Regions from separate parts of the Homo sapiens genome. Here region 2 is linked to region 1. The links come from fine-mapping of genetic effects on gene expression. A gene starts in region 1. The other region holds a variant in brackets. All regions are shown on one strand. Distances are from middle to middle. Region 1 holds the start of NEK6 (NIMA related kinase 6). Region 2 has its middle 33 kb from the start of NEK6.

What was found. PIP is the estimated chance that this variant, and not a neighbour inherited with it, causes the effect.
Region 2: its variant is the best candidate, but not a certain one, in a credible set for the expression of NEK6 in monocytes (Fairfax 2014, PIP 0.79).

Annotation. Positions count from the first base shown.
Region 1 is chr9:124,255,412-124,260,783 of GRCh38, forward strand. It overlaps NEK6 (NIMA related kinase 6), which reads left to right and starts at 2,538. Exons shown (of 10, transcript NM_014397.6): 1 at 2,538-2,674. LOC613206 (a long non-coding RNA gene) reads right to left here. Exons shown (of 2, transcript NR_149024.1): 2 at 3,799-4,083. RefSeq lists silencers at 2,558-2,687, 2,748-3,117 and an enhancer at 3,155-4,100.
Region 2 is chr9:124,222,334-124,227,705 of GRCh38, forward strand. No RefSeq gene overlaps it. Among named protein-coding and RNA genes, the nearest start is that of NEK6, 33 kb to the right of the region's middle. The variant A/C (reference allele first, on the strand shown) is at 3,207.

The DNA.
Region 1 (5,372 bases):
AATGAGGACATCACAAGTATCTGTCATACGGGTTCTGTGAAGCTGGGGAAGGGCTTTGCAAGCAGTAAAGTCTTACATAGATATTGTGTGTTGGGGGTGGGGGCAGTCCTTTCCTCCCAGTGGCCTGGTGCGGCTCTCAAAGTTTCCTTCAAAAGGGAGTTTCTGGTTCTTGCTCTGTAGCTTAACTGAATAGCTGCCAGAACATGGGACCTGCCCTCCACACAGTGGGCCCCTACTGACTTCTCCCACTCCCTCATTCAGGCCTCTGCTCAGATGTCACCTCATCAGAAAGGCCTTCTTCCAGCACCCCCTATAAAAAAGCACCCCTGGGTCCTCCTACCCTTCCGAGTTATTTCTCCACCAAACTTCTTTTTTTTTTTTTTTTGGAGACAGAGTCTCGCTCTGTCACTGAGGCTGGAGTGTAGTGGCGCGATCTCGGCTCACTGCAAACTTCGCCTCCCGGGTTCACGCCATTCTCCTGCCTCAGCCTCCCAAGTAGCTGGGACTACAGGCGCCTGCCACCATGCCCGGCTATTTTTTTGTATTTTTAGTAGAGACAGGGTTTCACCGTGTTATCCAGGATGGTCTCGATCTCCTGACCTTGTGATCCGCCTGCGTCGGCCTCCCAAAGTGCTGGGATTACAGGCGTGAGCCACCGCGCCCGGCCCAAACTTCTTATCCTTGAAATGGCAGATATTCAGTGTCTTCCTCCCACCCCATCCCTCCCCCTTGACTGAAGCCCCAAGAAAGGGCCATATTTTGTTCACTCCTTTATCCCAGTGCCTAGAAAAGTACCTGGCCCATGGAAGGTGCTCATAGATGTGTCGGGTGAACCAATGACTGAACTAATGTTTGCTGCATGAATATGGCCAGTATCACAAATCCTCTAGTAACACTGCAATACGCTGTCTCAGAACTTCGATTTCTTTCTATTATTTGTTGCAGTGTTTATTTCTTCTATTTAACTTTTCAATCTGTCTGACATTTATTGTGGTGTATATCATGGGAGGCAAGGCTGTAAACAGATCTCCAGCTAAACGGCTAAACAATTTGCAGAACAATCCATTTCCTCCCCATTGGTTTGTGATGTCTGCATTTTCATCCACAAGAGCTGGGACCAGGCCCGCTCCTGTGGGCCAGCTGCTGCCTCGTCTGCCCTCTTGTTCCAGAAGCCCAGGGCTATGCTGTTCCTGAGGCAGGGCTGCCTAGTGATTGGCCACACAGGCACTGGAATTAGACAATCTGCCGTGCACTTTCCAGCTCAACCACTTACCATCTGGGTGACTTTGAACAAAAGAATTTGCTTTTTATTGTTGTTGTCCAGGTTGGAGTGCAGTGGTGCGATCATAGCTCACTGCAGCTGCTAACTCCTATGCTCAAGAGACCCTCCCGCCTCAGCGTCCCGAGTAGCTGGGACTGCAGGCAGGCACTACCACACCCAGCTAATTCTTACATTTTTCTGTAGACATGGGGTTTTGCTATATTGCCCAGGCTGGCCTCAAACTCCCAGCCTCAAGGCATCCTCCCACCTCAGCCTCCCATAGTACTGGGATTACAGGTGTGAGCCACCGCACCCAGCCTGAAATTTCATTTCTAAGCCTCAAAGCCCATCTGTAAAATGGGCACAAGGGTAACGTTGGCACACGTGGTGGACGCTCCGTTGGTGTCATTATTACAGATCACGGCCAGTTGAAGCACTTCCACTCATTTGGCAAACAGAAGCCAGACGGGCATTCACCCTGTGCCCAGTACAGTGCTGCGCCCAAGCAGGCAGTCAGTGTCCCTGGCTCCAGCCCTCCTGGGGTGCAGCACAGTTTTGAATGTGGAGGGGAGGCAGCAGGGGTGGAAACAGCCCAGCCAGGAGCGGCCGCTCTCGGTGCGGGGAGGAGGTGAAGTGAGAACTGAGCTGCTTGGGTCTCAGGGAGGCTCTGACTTCTAGAGGGGGCGTTCAACATTCTTTAGTGGGGACTTTTACTACTTCCAGAAACCTCTGCACATTGGCTCTTGCTGGTCCCCCGGGGGCCACAGGAAGTGGGAGCTCCAGATGAAGAGTCGCTGGCACTTTGAGGGCAGGGGGCAGGGCCTTCCCCTCATCGGAATACTCTTGGAGCCTACTTCAGTGCCTGCATTCAGCTGGTGCACAATAAGTGCTTGTTACTGTGCCAATTTCAGTATGACTAGGGCTGTGGTAGGAGCAATGCTAGGCGATGGGGAATCCGAAGACGCACAGGAGTCCAAGGGTTGGCTGACTGCAGACCCTCATCATAAGTCTAGAGCCGGAGAAGATGGGGAGACGCCGGCCTGCGCCCTGTGAGTCTGGGCCTCAGTCTTCCCATCTCTGAAATGGGGAAGGGGTTCCTCGGCCGAGCGGATCGGCCGCAGAACTCGGCGGAGTCGAGGGGTCCAGGCCCAGGAAGGACGCCGCCGGGGCGCCCCCCGCCCCTCAAGCTTGCGTGGCGGCAGCGCGCACGAGCGCTGGGGGCGGCGCGGCCCCGCGGCGGGGAGGGGCGGGCGCGCGGGCGCGCGGGCCCGCGCAGGCGGTGGCGGCGGCGGCGGAACCGAGCTGACGGGCGTGCGGCCGCTGCGCCGCAAACTCGTGTGGGACGCACCGCTCCAGCCGCCCGCGGGCCAGCGCACCGGTCCCCCAGCGGCAGCCGAGCCCGCCCGCGCGCCGGTGAGTCGCCTGGGGCTGGGGCCGGGCCGGTGGGGCCCCGCGGCCCGGAGAAGGGCGGGGGCCGGGCGGCGGGGCCGTCACCCCCAGCCGGGCCGAGGGCGGGCGCGCGCCCACGGCTCCGCGGGGGAGAGCGGGAGGCGGGCGCGAGTGTGGCCGCGCGGGGCTGAGCGTGTCGGCGGCCGGGCGGGCGGGGGCGGCGTGTCCGCGTGTCCCGGGGTGTGCGCGTCCCCGGCGGGTGTGCGTGTGCACCCCGGAGCGTCTGGTGGCGTTGTTGGGGTGAGTGCGTGCGGGGACGCGGGCATGGCTCCCCGCTACCCACTTCCCGAGTGGGGACGACGGGCGGAGGAGTGTGCCGGGCGCCGCAGGGAGTACGTGCGGGTCTCAGGGAGTGTGTGTGTGCACGTGTGTGCATTCCAAAGTGATTTGTGTGCAAGCACATGCGTGAGCCTAGAAGGGCGAAAGTATGCCTGTGTGGGTGTGAGTATAACGAGTGTGCAGGGCCGTGCGAGCGTGTTTATTACTGAGGTTGAGGGGCCGGCCCCCTTTGCGCCCACCAGGCCTTTGCACAGTGATGGCCCCCGAGCCAGGGAGCCCGTGGAGAGAGAAGCGGCCTGGCATGGGCTGGGGGTCGGGGCTGGGCCTGATCCGGTGAACCAGGGGCCAGGAGGGCAGACTCAGAGCCTGGCTGGGCCTGACAGAGGCAAAGGTCTTAGAGCCAGGCTGCGGCAGGGCCACTGGCAGGACCCTCTCTGCATACACAGGCTGGGCGAGCGGAGGCTGTGGTGGGCCCCTCGGCCGGGCACCCGAGGACGTGTGTTTTCCTAAATATCCTCCAGGCTCTCCTGTCTTTGTTCTTGTCTCTCTCCAGCCAGGCCTGGGGGGCTGACCCTAGACTTGCCTGTGTATGTGGGGGCCTCTCTGCCTGCCCTGCTAAGTAGACGGATCTTTTGATTTATTTATACCTCTCCTAGGCTCCAAGTGTGAATCCCAGGACAGTAACAAATTGATCACAGCGGGCTTGGGACACCAGCTTCCGAGGTCTGTCCTTGCAGTTTTGACTGACAGGCTTTTGTGTGTGTGCGTGCTCTCTAACTGTTGAAAATCTTTGCAGCTGAAAGTCTTAATTGCTTTAAGGCAAACTTTAGAAATTCCAGAGCTCCCTAGTTGGTCTGACTTTTCCAAATTCAGCTTGCCTTTTTTGGGGGAAAATGTCGCCTTAGTTTGGTGTACAGTACGTGCAGGCAGGTCTTGGAGGCACGTTTAAAAACCCTGTCGTTAATGGAAGAAGAATTTCATTGAAAGGGACGCAGAGCCGTCTGGAAGCGCCTGCCCCGGACTCAGCGAGTTTGGACTCAGCGAGTTTGAGCTTACCGAATGAACTTTGGACGTCTTCTTTTAGCAAACAAAACCTGGAAGGAAGCAAAAAAGACCCACATTCTTTTTCTTTTTTCTCCTGAAAATGAAAAAAAGAAAACACCTTCTGGGTTTGCTGGAAATGCCCCCTCTCCTTCCCCCATCAAGGCCAAGCCCTCGCTGCGTCCCCCACCCCCAAATAAAATATGCCTGTGGGGAGCCGTGGAATGAGTCACTCCCTGGCAGAGAGCCTGACGGGCAAACATTTGGGAAGGTTCTTGCCTAACTTCCCAGAAGAAAAGGCCCAGGATTTAAAATGGTCCCTGTGGTTTGTCAGCCTCTGCTGTCCCGTCTGCTTCGGAAATGACTAAAAAGTAGTTTGTATCTCCACAAAATAAAGTCTCAGACTGAAGGCCTTAGACCCAGGTTGGTCTGGATTTAGAGCTGTTTGGGTTTCCAGAAATGGAGCGCCTGGCTTTAACTGGTGGCATTTCTGGTGGGTTTGAACAAGGGCAGAGGAGGGAAATGGGGAGGAAGTTCCCTTTTGCGGAGCAGAAGGGGCTGTGTGCTGGGAGCCGTTCTAGGGGGTGTGAATCTCCCGTTGGTCTTCTGTGACAGAAAATGCTTTTGGTTTTGTGCACAAGGAAACTGAGGCACACGGGGGTCAAGCCTGTGTCCTGGGGCAGCTGAGAGGAGGTGGGGGCAGAATCCGAAGTCACCTGCCCAGCCTCACAGCCTTTCCTCTTTCCATTGCACTTGGGATATGGTATTTGACTGGCTAAGGTGCACAGACCTAGTGCTGAGTACTTTAGCACACATCCGTTCATTTTCTGCTCATCGTAGATAGGGTTTATTATCCCCATTTCACAAATGATAAAACTGAGGTTCAGAGACATGACTTGCATAATTTCATTAAAGTAGCACCACGATAGATGGTCCCCATTTATTTTTATTTATTTATTTATTTATTTTTGAGACAGAGTCTCACTCTGTTGCCCAGGCTGGAGTACAGTGGCGCAATCTCAGCTCCCTGCACCCTCTGCCTCCTGGGTTCAAGTGAGCCTCCTGCCTCAGCCTCCTCCTGAGTAGCTGGGATTATAGGCAGGTGCCACCACGCCCAGATAATTTTTGTATTTTTAGTAGAGATGGGGTTTCACTGTGTTGGCCAGCCAGGCTGGTCTCGAACTCCTGACCTCAGGTGATCCGCCCGCCTTGGCCTCCCAAAGTGCTGGAATTACAGGCATGAGCCACCATGCCCGGCCATGTCCCCATTTACTGAGGATATACTGTGTGCTAGGTCTGGTGCTGTATTTTACCCAGTCCACTCACCAACACTAAGATGGAA
Region 2 (5,372 bases), 33 kb before region 1:
ACCAGACGGAAGACAGTGGGTCCCTCAGGCCCTTGCTGGGCCTGCCCTATCCCAGGATCTGGGTCCCTAGCTTCATCTGTCACTTCAAAGCTTCCTGTCCCTCAGCCAGGGACTGAGGTAAATTCTAGGCGTTCTGGGCTCTCACTTTCCTCATGTTTGCATGTTCTTTGTGACGCGGTATCCAAGTCGCTGCACAGGTAGGAGGAGCCTGAGGGCTCATCCAGTCCAACCTCCTCCTATGCAGTTCAGATGGGAAAACTGAGGTTCAGAATAGAGACTTGCTGGAAGCATGAAAGTAATTGACAGGTTGGTAGGGGCACAGGGGGTGAAGCGTGTGACAAGCTGGGCCAAAGCTCCAGGGACACGGGTCCTACACTGGCACTTGCGTGGACATCCATGTTACCTGCACTCATGTGTAGTAAAGAGGTCATGCGTGTTTACAAACCATAGTACCACCACAGAGACCACAGGCCCAGCAAATGGGGCTCACACAGGCATGCACACACACACACGTATCCTTGATGGTAAACATGCCCACCCACCATTGTGCACACATGCGTGTATTTACACCCACATGCACACTCATCGGCACACAATCAGAGCCACACACCTGCACGTGCCCCCACAGAATCACACGTGTGTGCAGTCTCACCTATCTGCACTCTGCCATGGGCCCCATTACATACATGCATGCAAACAGATAACACACACGCCTATCAATAGCCAGGATGACTCACACACGAGGACACACATCATACCCTCACAGACTCGTGCATGGACCACCCTGCAGTCACAAAGCAGCATCCAGCATCCGACAATCTGCTGATGTCACTCCCCTGAGAGTAACCATGGCTCCATGCATAGGCAGAGGCAACTCAGCTCACAGGTGCCGCCTGTCCACATGCAGACACAGACACACACACACATACACACACACACACTCTGACAGTTCCCCAATGGCCAGCCTCCTCCACTGACTCCCCACAGCCAGGTGCTCTGACACCCTCCTTGGTGGGACCCTCTCTCTTCAAGGCGCCCAGAGCCACCTGGCTGTCCTTGGAACTAAGTGAGCACCCTGCCCACCCCCAGCCTTGTCCCCTAAACTGGGTGGTTTAGGTCTGAGGGGTGGGGAGAAGGCTGCCCAGAGTCCAAAGTTCAGGGGCCAACATCTTGTTTGCAGGCGCTGGTGGAAATTGCACAACCTGCCAGCTGGGTGACTTGGGCTTATTGTCTCTGAGTTCCCCTTGGCTGCAGGCCCAAGCCCAGCCAGTGACCTGTTTCTCTGGAAGAGGGTGGGGAAAGTGGTTCCTCCCTCCCCTGCCTGGGGAACTGGTGGCCCTCCCTGGGCACTGGTGGCTGGTCCCCAGCTATGTGTGCAACACACCTGACACTGAGATGCACAGAACTCAGCATCCAACCTGTCCTTTCCCAGATAGGAAACTGAAGCTCAGGGAAGGAAAGGCTTGCCCAGGGTCACCCAGCAAGGAGGCCCAGGAGGACTGGAACTCAGGCTCAGTTTCCTTTCTTTTCTTTTCTTTTTTTTTGTGATGGAGTCTCACTCTGTGGCCCAGGCTCGAGTGCAGTGGCGTGATCTTAGCTCACTGCAACCTCTACCTCCTGGGTTCAAGCGATTCTCCTGCCTCAGCTTCCTGAGTAGCTGGGATTATAGGCACGTGCCACCACACCCAGCTAATTTTTTCATATTTTTAGTAGAGGCAGGGTTTCACCATGTTAGCCGGTCTGGTCTCAAACTCCTGACCTCAGGTGATCTGCCCGCCTCGGCCCCTCAAAGTGCTGGGATTACAGGTGTGAGCTACCGCGCCCAGCTCAGTTTTCTTTCAAACCCTTTATCAAAAGAAATATAATCCAAAGCCAGACAGTACTAATGCAAATGAGCAGAGCTACCGTGGGTGCAAAAGGAAGGGACCCCAGAGCCCGTGAGTAGAGACCACTTTCCCTTTCCACACCTACCGTGGCTAAGTCAGTTAGTCAAAGGGTCACTGTGCCATATCACCAGATCATTGAGCTTAACAAATCTATCCCGACTTAAAACATTTTATTTATTTATTTATTTTTGAGACAGGGCCTTGCTCTTGTCACCCAGGCTGGAATGCAGTGGTGCAATCTCAACTCACTGCAGCCTCAACTTCCCGGACTCCACCCATCCTCCTGCCTCAGTCTCCCAGGTAGCCGGGACCACAGGCATGCACCACCACACCCGGCTAATTTTTGTATGTTTTGTAGAGATGGGGTTTCGCCATGTTGCCCAGGCTGGTCTCAAACCCCTGGTCTCAAGCGATCTGCTCACCTTGGCCTCCTGAAGTGCTAGGACTACAGGCATGAGCCACCCCAGTGAGCTTTTTTTCATTTTGTTTTAATTTGTAAAAGTTCCCACTGTGTGCATGAAATGAATTAGCAAGGCCATCATGGCTACGGGGGGTCAGGATCTGGGGCCTTCAGATCCCTCTCACCTCTGGGACCTGCAGCCCAGACTGGGCTTAGATCTCTATTCTGTTCCCCTCCAGTGGCAGCATCAGGGACATGGGGTAGAGACAAACTGAACATTCCTGAAAATCCAAGAAATCTTCTAAAGCTTTAAAAACCCATCCCATGCCTGCCTGTCTTTTCCCTCTCCCCTTCGCTGCCTTTCTGTATCTCTCCCTTCTTTCCTTTCTTCCTCCTGCCTGCCTACCTTTCTCAGTGCATCCAGTCAAAATCATGAGGCTCGAGGATGACAGTCACAGTGGCCCTTGTGAGGCTGGACCTGGGCGGCAGCCTGCTGCAATCAAAGATGGGTATGCACCGGGGCAGAGCAGAGGTATAGCTTAGCATGGACAAGAGGATTCAGGTTTCTCCTTGATGAGGCAGGGAGGCACAGATGCAGAAAGGAGGAAACCAGCTGGGTGCGGTGGCTCACGCGAGTAATCTCAGCACTTTGGGAGGCGGAGGCAGGCGGACCACCTGAGGTCAGGAGTTCAAGACCAGCCTGGCCAACATGGTGAAACACCGTCTCTACTAAAAAATACAAAAATTAGCCAGACATGGTGGTGTGCACCTGTAGTCCCAGCTACACAGGAGGCTGAGGAAGAAGAATTGCTTGAACCCGGGAGGCAGAGGTTGCAGTGAGCCGAGATTGTGACACTGTACTCCAGCCTAGGCAACAAGAGTGAGACTCTGTCTCAAAAAAAACAAAACAACAACAACAA[A/C]AAAAAAGCCAGGTGCAATGGCTCACACCTGTAATCCAAGCACTTTGGGAAGCCGAGGCGGGCGGATCACTTGACGTCAGGAGTTCAAGACCAGCCTGTCCAGCGTGGTGAAACCTGATCTCTACTAAAAAATACAAAAATTAGCCATGCGTGGTGGCGTGTGCCTATAATCCCAGATACTCAGGAGGCTGAGGCAGGAGAATCACTTGAACCCAGGAGGCAGAGGTTACAGTAAGTCGAGATCACACCACTGCACTCCAGCCTGGGTGACAGAGTAAGAATCCGTCTCAGAAAAAAAAAAAAAGGAGGAAACTGAAGAAGCCCATAGTGTTGGGCTGGAGTTGGAGCTCTCAGTGAGAACACATGGTGAGAATCTGTGTTTATGTGGAGAGAGAGAGAATATAGACAGAAAGGTGTGTCTATATATATACATGTATATGCACCTGCATGCATATGTGTATACATATATGCATATTTGATGTGTGTGTGTGTGTGTGTATTTTCAGCTCTGTTCACCAAGAAGGTATGGGAGCAGCAATGCTCTGGTAGCAATGAACATACCCAGTGCCAAGATCTTGTTTTCAAAATGCCATTTGGAGGAAGGCTGAGTCCTGGCTGGGAGAGAGGAAGAACAAGATGAACCTGGAACACCTTGTTGTGGCAAAAAGTCACTAAGCATTCAAAGCATAGTGTGGACATGTCAAAGGGACACAGGGGCCAGCTGGATGGGGCCACACCAAATCTGGTGTAATTGAAAAATCAAAATTAATAATGATAGCAATGAATGATAACCCACTGAATAAAATAGAAACCCCTGACTCCAACTGCTATAAACAAAAAAACGAATAAGTAACCGGACAGAAGAGAAAGCTTTTCCTGACAGTAGAATGTCAAATCATACAGAAAGAAGGAAAACCACCTTTGTCAAATATGATCATAATTATTATTTCAGGTAAGAAACATCGATGGAACCAGGTTAAAACTAGGGATGTAAATGGAGTGAAGAACAGGATATTAGCTTAGCACTGGAGCCCGGGAGTTCCAGTTCAGCCTGGGCAATATAGCTTGAGCCTATCTCTAAATAAATAAATAGACAGAAAATGAACAATTCTAGGAAAAACAGAAAGCTGCACAAGAGAATAAATGCAATCACAGTACTCTACATTGCTGGGCTATCAACACTGTTCACATGGCCACAAAATAAACCCCCAATATTTATCTAACCAAAAATTATGAGATGAGATGATCATATAAGGAAGATGGTACCAGGGGAAGTAGGGGCAGCGTGGTATGGGAAGCAAATTCTAATCTTCCAAAGTAAGAAGAGAGTAGATTATACATAAAACTGAAAGTCCAGAAATAACGGTATAGACATGTGATAACAGTGGAAGCATAAAGGCAAATAAAAAAGAAACTTGTTTCTTGTTAAAAAGCAGTTACCTCTGATGGTTGGGAACTGGGAGCAAAGATGGATTAGACAGGAGACAGCTGTTTTTCATTGTTAAGTCTTGCAGAACAAAATGCATGTAAAATTTTTTGAAAGTGAAATCAAAATATAAAAATATAATTAAAAGAAATACATGTTTAGGCCAGGCACAGTGGCTCATGCCTGTAATCCCAGCACTTTGGGGGGCCGAGGTGGGTGGATCACTTGCGGTCAGGAGTTCGAGACCAGCCTGGCCAACACGGTGAAACCCCATATCTACCAAAAATACAAAAATTAGCCGTGCGTGGGGGCACACTCCTATAGTCCCAGCTACTCAGGAGGCTGAGGCAGGAGAATCACTTGAGCCCAGGAGGCAGACGTTGCAGTGAGCCGAGATCATGCCACTGCACCCCAGCCGGTGGGGCAGAACAAGACTCAGTCTCAAAAAAAAAAAGAGAAATACATTTTGAGATAAGCAGTAAATTTGGATAATTGGTTGAGTTGACCATTTAACAAAATCTTCAAAGGATCCTTCAGATGCTAAAGTTCTGATAAGACAGAAAATTACTTTTTTTCAGAGGTTTTTAAAAACAATCAGTCTAAAAGCTAAAGTTCCCATGTGATACTGTGAAAAACATATTCATAGGATATTATTTAAGAAGAATAGACTGGGTACAGTGGCTCATGCCTATAATCCCAGCACTTTGGGAGCCTGAGGTGGGCGGATCCCGAGGTCAAGA